2 separate regions of the Homo sapiens genome follow, and region 1 is linked to region 2. Evidence: fine-mapped expression QTL. A gene starts in region 2. The other region holds a variant in brackets. All regions are shown on one strand. Distances are from middle to middle. Region 1 holds the start of LOC107986595 (a long non-coding RNA gene). Region 2 holds the start of TREM2 (triggering receptor expressed on myeloid cells 2).

The links. PIP is the estimated chance that this variant, and not a neighbour inherited with it, causes the effect.
Region 1: its variant is fine-mapped to the expression of TREM2 in blood mononuclear cells (TOPMed, PIP 0.98).

What each region holds. Positions count from the first base shown.
Region 1 is chr6:41,183,492-41,186,398 of GRCh38, forward strand. It overlaps LOC107986595 (a long non-coding RNA gene), which reads right to left and starts at 2,898. Exons shown (of 3, transcript XR_001744118.2): 1 at 2,486-2,898. The variant A/G (reference allele first, on the strand shown) is at 1,291.
Region 2 is chr6:41,161,766-41,164,672 of GRCh38, forward strand. It overlaps TREM2 (triggering receptor expressed on myeloid cells 2), which reads right to left and starts at 1,351. Exons shown (of 5, transcript NM_018965.4): 1 at 1,278-1,351. The coding sequence starts at 1,317.

The DNA of each region.
Region 1 (2,907 bases), 22 kb after region 2:
GTACTGTCTTTCCAATTTTTTGAACCAGGAGCTCCAGTGTGATTCACAATTTATCTACCACTTACACAAACACACTCATACACTCTCACACCCAGACACATATTCACACACACTCCTAAAATAAAAGTTTAACAAAAAAAGGGTAAAGCATTATGACATTATGCTCTTCTATTATGTTTTTATAAAAATCCTGTTGTGACCTATTAAATTGATTTTACACTGATTAAAAATAGGTATATAAAATTTTACAACCCACTGCTTTCTTTGGATTTTCATAGCTTGAATAATTAAAACCAATGAAGTCCAATATACCTCTGGCCCACTCCCACGTTTCAGTCTTTTTGTCAACAGAAACATCTTCAGTATAGGGCTATTGAGCACACAGTACCTATGTGTCAAACCAACCAACCAACATAAAACAGCAAGAAAGGAGGTAACATTCATTAAAGGGGACTAATCTGATAAATCTTAGACAAGATGCTACAGATTTCATATGTGATTAATGCTAAAAACTTAAAACTTTGAAGATTAAAAAGTCCTGGAAGTGCTTTTAGGAAGACGACATTTTTAAATGATAAAAACAATTAAAAAACAATACCATGAACCAGGAACATCTTTACATAGATTTGTTTTAAAAGTCTTAACCTAAAAGTTGGCAAAAAATACATGATCCAAAATGGATACTAGCACACCTAGTTGTAGACAAATTGGCACTGAGTTGAATTGGCTTTGGGTGAGCTGACCTGGAGCCTTAGAAGATGATGAGTCCACCGCCCTCAGGGCTGCCCAGGCTGTTGCTCTGGCAGAAGGAAGGGAAGCCATTTGGGGCTCCCAGGGGATCTTGGCCACTTTACTTCTCAGGCCTCAGTTTCCTAGTTGGTAAAATGAGCATAAGAATCCTTGTCCTCGATGAGTTCATGTCCTTGTAGGGACATGGATGAAGCTGGAAACCATCATTCTGAGCAAACTATCACAAGGACAGAAAACCAAATACCGCATGTTCTCACTTATAGGTGGGAATTGAACAATGAGAACACTTGGACACAGGGTGGGGAACATCACACACGGGGGCCTGCCGTGGGGTAGGGAGAAGGGGGAGGGATAGCATTAGGACATATACCTAATGTAAATGACGAGTTAATGGGTGCAGCACAGCAACATGGCACATGTATACATATGTAACAAACCTGCACGTTGTGCACATGTGTCCTAGAACTTAAAGTACAATAATAAAAAATAAAAAAAATAAAAAAACAATCCTTGTCCTCACGGCTCTCAGGCTGCCCTAGA[A/G]ATCGCTAAGCACTTGGCTGTCTGCTCAGAGCCAGTGACCAGGACTCACTTTCCTAGCTCTTCCTCGGGCTTTCTGGAGGTACCGGTTGATGAGGAGGGCAAGCAGCAGCAGCAGCAGCACAACGGTCACTGCCACACCCAGGATGATGGACTTGACTGGGGGGCTTTGGAATAAGGACCCGCCTGATGAGGAAAGTCAGAGCCCAGACCAACCTCCTGCCCTGAAATTCATCCCTCCTGCCATGCCTGTTGTCACCACAGGCCCTCCCCAGCTTCTAGCCTGTCCTCTGAGGTCTCCTTCGGCTCAGCTGACCAGTAGGCAGCCATGTGATCAGGGGCTCTTCCCCACAAACCATGTTGTCTAGGGTAAGCCATTCCACCTCAGGGTCGGTTTCTTTCTGTGCAAAACTGCTATCTCAAGTCCTTGCTCTTTCCCTTTTGCAATTGTTATCCCTTGGCTTTCTATCTGGGCCCCTATTGCAGGGTCTCCACCCAGCTCTCCTGGCACCCTTTGCTTCACATTTCTGTCTCAGGTCCTTAAGCTCAACCCTTCTCTAGGAAATGCAGTGAGCTCTCAGAGTATACTGATGTCATTGACAAATAGCTCTCCCAGATAAAAAATACATTTTAATAGGTCCCATTTTAAGTCAAAGGAAGAACACAGAGGTAGACTGTTTTATACCATAGCAGGCTTTTAGGGAAGGTGTCTGGGTTGTCAGATGTCAAAGGGGGAGGACAAGCAGTTCAGGAACATCTCTCAGCTCAGGTGATCAGCACCCCTTGGTTTCTGGTTTAATCTCTTGATGCAAGAAAGTATGGTTTGCAAGAGCCCAGCATTCATCATCTGGAGTGATGGTGGATGGAGAGAAGGGAGGGGAGGACAGAGGCAGGAAGACACTGTCAGTGCCCGTGGCTGGGGCCTGGAAACCATCAGGCAGAGGTAGAAAACAAAGCAGGCCACAGGTTGTGGTAACTACACAGTGTGCCCTTTCCCTAGACCCACAGTACTCTGGAATAGCTCTCCTGCTCACGGACAAGGGCTGGAAGGAGGACAGAGGTGAAAGAAACAGCCCTGGTCATGTGCTATGAATTGAACTGGGCCCTTCAAGTCCGTATTTTCCTTGAATCTTCACAACAACCCTGTAAGAAAAAGGTTCCTGTCCCCCTCCCTTGGCCCTGCTCCCCTTCCCCTCACCTGAGGCCAGGAGCACCAGCAGAACTCTCAACAGCAGGTGTGTGGCCTCCAAGGTCATGGGTCCTCTTCTTGAGCCGGGATGGTGGGAGGAAAGTGAGGCAGCGGGGAAACCCTGGGGAGCGGGAACCAGCGCTGGCAGGATCCGGCCCTGGGGATGAATTGCTGAGGAAGTCAAAGTCTCCCTTGAGGAAGCAGGAGGCCTGGAAGGAAGGGGGACGCCTTGGCCTACACGAGCCCCTCCAGCTGCAGGCTCTACATCCGGGCCTGGAAAGGCCTCAGCCTATACTCTGTAGCTCCTGCTGGTTTCCTCTGGCCCCAGCCTCTTCCCACTTGTCAGGCCACCTCCCTCCCACTGGCGCTGGGGTGGGAAAAGCTGAGAAAGTCCAGGAGGAAACTATGGCGAAATAAAAACCTCTTTCTCC
Region 2 (2,907 bases):
AAATTGGGAACCAGGAAACCTGGGACCTGGGTTTGGTTTTCTCACTGTTGCTCTTGCTGGGCCTCCTTGGAGAAGTAACTGACCTTCTCTGGGTCTATTCTGGAGGCACTTGGTCTTAAAACCCCCTCCAGTTCTGTTCTGCACATCTCTTTGCCATCATTTGGGACTGGGACCTCTCCTCTCGGCCTGGGGCTGGCTCTCCCTGCCCCGCCACTCTTGCTTGCTCTGCAGCCGCCCACATTGGTACCGACTTTCCTGACCTTTAACTTCCAGCTTCCCTATTTCTGTGGCTTTGTTCCCCTTTCAGGAAGGACCCGTCTCGGAGATATTTTGGGGGAGACATGAGGCTGCTATTTTGGGAACCCTCCTTAGGGCGGGGGAGATGGGCTTAGAGCACCAGCCTGTTGCTGGGGCAGCCCCCAGAGCCCCCTGCTTTGACTTCTCTCTTGGTCCTCCCTTGCCTGCCATCTTCAACCATTACTGTGACAGAGGCTTGAAAGATAGGATTGGGAAGTTGGTGGCTTGCCTTTTGGAACTAGAGAGACCAGATGGGCCGTGGCCCTCTCCCATCTGACCACCTCCCATCCATGCCTCAGAACCCCGCCTTCCCCCTGACCACCATCTAAGAAGCTGCAGGAACAAGACTCCATTTGGCACCGTCTCTCCTCTTGCCCAGGTTTGTCCAGTGCTCTGGGGGAGCAAAAGGTGCGCTTTCCTCAGCGGGAAGAAGCAATTGTGTACAAAAATTTGGTGTGTCAATTCCCCTCAACTCAGCAACGGAAATCTCTACGCTCCTCACCTCCCATCAAGAGCTGAGGACAAGGGGACCTTCAGAGCAGGGGAGAGAGTGCCCCAAAGATGCAGATGAACATCCTCAGGTTCTTTCCTCCTTTATAACTGTAGGGGCTCATAATTAGTGGCTTATAATTTCAGAGGCTATTACCAGTGCCAGTGCCCCCCAAAGCTTCCCCCAACTGCCAGCTAGTGCCTGGGATGCCACTGTTAGCACTCCTTCCCTTCCAATGCAACCAGAGTCCACCAGCCCCTTACATGTCCACATGCAGAAAGAGTCTGAGGGTAGGTTTTGATACTGGGGAGGGAAGGAGGGTGTGAAGAATATGGGCAGGGTGGGGAGGAGAGGAGTGCAGAACAGGGCACTCAGGCATGCGAGGACTGCCACCGCCTTCATAATTCACCCCAGGGCCCACCACCCGCGCCCCAACCACATGCTCAAAGTGAGGGAGAGAAGGCATCACAGGGCACGGAGGGGATCCTACCTGTGACAAAGAGTAAGATGAGCAGCCGGAGAGGCTCCATGCCACCCTTCCCCAGCCAAGGGCAGAAGCAGAGTGCCTTGTGCAAGATCTCGTCTTTCCCTTGAACTGCAGAAAAGAGAGGATCAGGCATGTCAGGCGCTGCCCACAGGAACTGGGCTCCTGGGGATTAAGCAATAGTCAGGACTGGGGTCTGGAGGCGGTGCAGGGTGGGGACAGAGGGGAGGAGGAGTCGGCCACTGCAGCCCTGGCAGAAGGAGGCTGAGTCTCCCAGACCTCTGAGAAGCCAGCCCACCCTCCTGCTGGTGCCAGCCAGGGTGGCCCCCAGATGGTTGGGGCTGGTAAGGCCCTGCACTGCTCAGTTTCCTTGCAGAGCCTAGCCCAGGGATCACTATCCTCACAGCTGTATTCAGACCCTCCACCAGCTGCAATGCCCGCCATCTTCTGGTTTCAGCCTTGCAAGAGTTGGAGAACAGCTGTGCCTTTAGAGGCCAGGACCCTCATCCAGCACCTCTTAGTTCATCCCCCCAGGGCTGTCATTCCTGTAGTGTGGCAGCAGTTAAGTACACAGCTCTGGAGCCAGACTTCCTGACTTTCTGGGTGTGTAACCACACATCCAAAACCTACCTGTGTCTGTTCCCTGATCTATACAGTGGGAATAATGATAGTGCAAAGGGTTATCAGGAGCACCATATGGGTTCCTACAGGTAAAGTGCTTTCCAGTAGGGCCTGACACACAGCATTCAACAAATACTAACTATTACCATTATCCTAGTTAGAAGGGAAAAGGGAAATGGGCTGTCCATAAGACAGAAAATTTTCTCTCCCACCTGGAATTTTCTGCCCAAGTTTAGCCTTCTTGGAACTGTTGGGTGTCTCCTGTGCACACATGCTCACACTGGTGTTTATTTTGTGCACACACATGCTTGAACTCCTGATCATCCTATCCTACAGGACAGGACAGGATATTTCTCAGAGTTCTGGGGGTAGGGGTGTGTTTTTCTACACGTACAGGTTCCCATGGTGATCCAAGCACAGGGACCCACGTGTGCAAAGGCACAAAAGTGTGAAATGGCCCAGTGAGTCGGGGATTGGATGGAGGAGGCTTGAGTCAATTCTAGGAGTGGGAAATGGAGTTGTGCTGGGAGTGGCAGAAGAGGCTGGAGAAGCCTGCAGGAGCCTGTAGATTATCAGGGTCTACTTTAGTTTCCTGCAAACACTCACTTATTTGTTCTTTTATTCATTTATTTACTCATATTTACTGTGCATCTAACTTACGGACAGGGAATGTGCTTGGAGATGGGGAATTCATAGTGAGGAGAAGACAGGCCTCCACTCAAAGGGCCAACTGCCCGGCCTTGCCCCAAGGGCCTGGGGGCTGAAGTCTGAGGCTGCCTGAAGATCACTCTGTAGGTACTCTTCTAGGGTCTTTTTCTAGAAGTCAGGTTTATTGGCCCATAATTTACATATACAAAAATTTACCCCTTTTAAATGTCTAGTTGTGTAAATGTTGACAAACTCATGCATCTCTATAACAACCACCACAATCACCATGTCTGTGTAACACAATACCATAATATAGAAAGTTTCATTTAGCTTAAGCGAGAGCCTTTGTGCCCATTTTAGCCAGTCT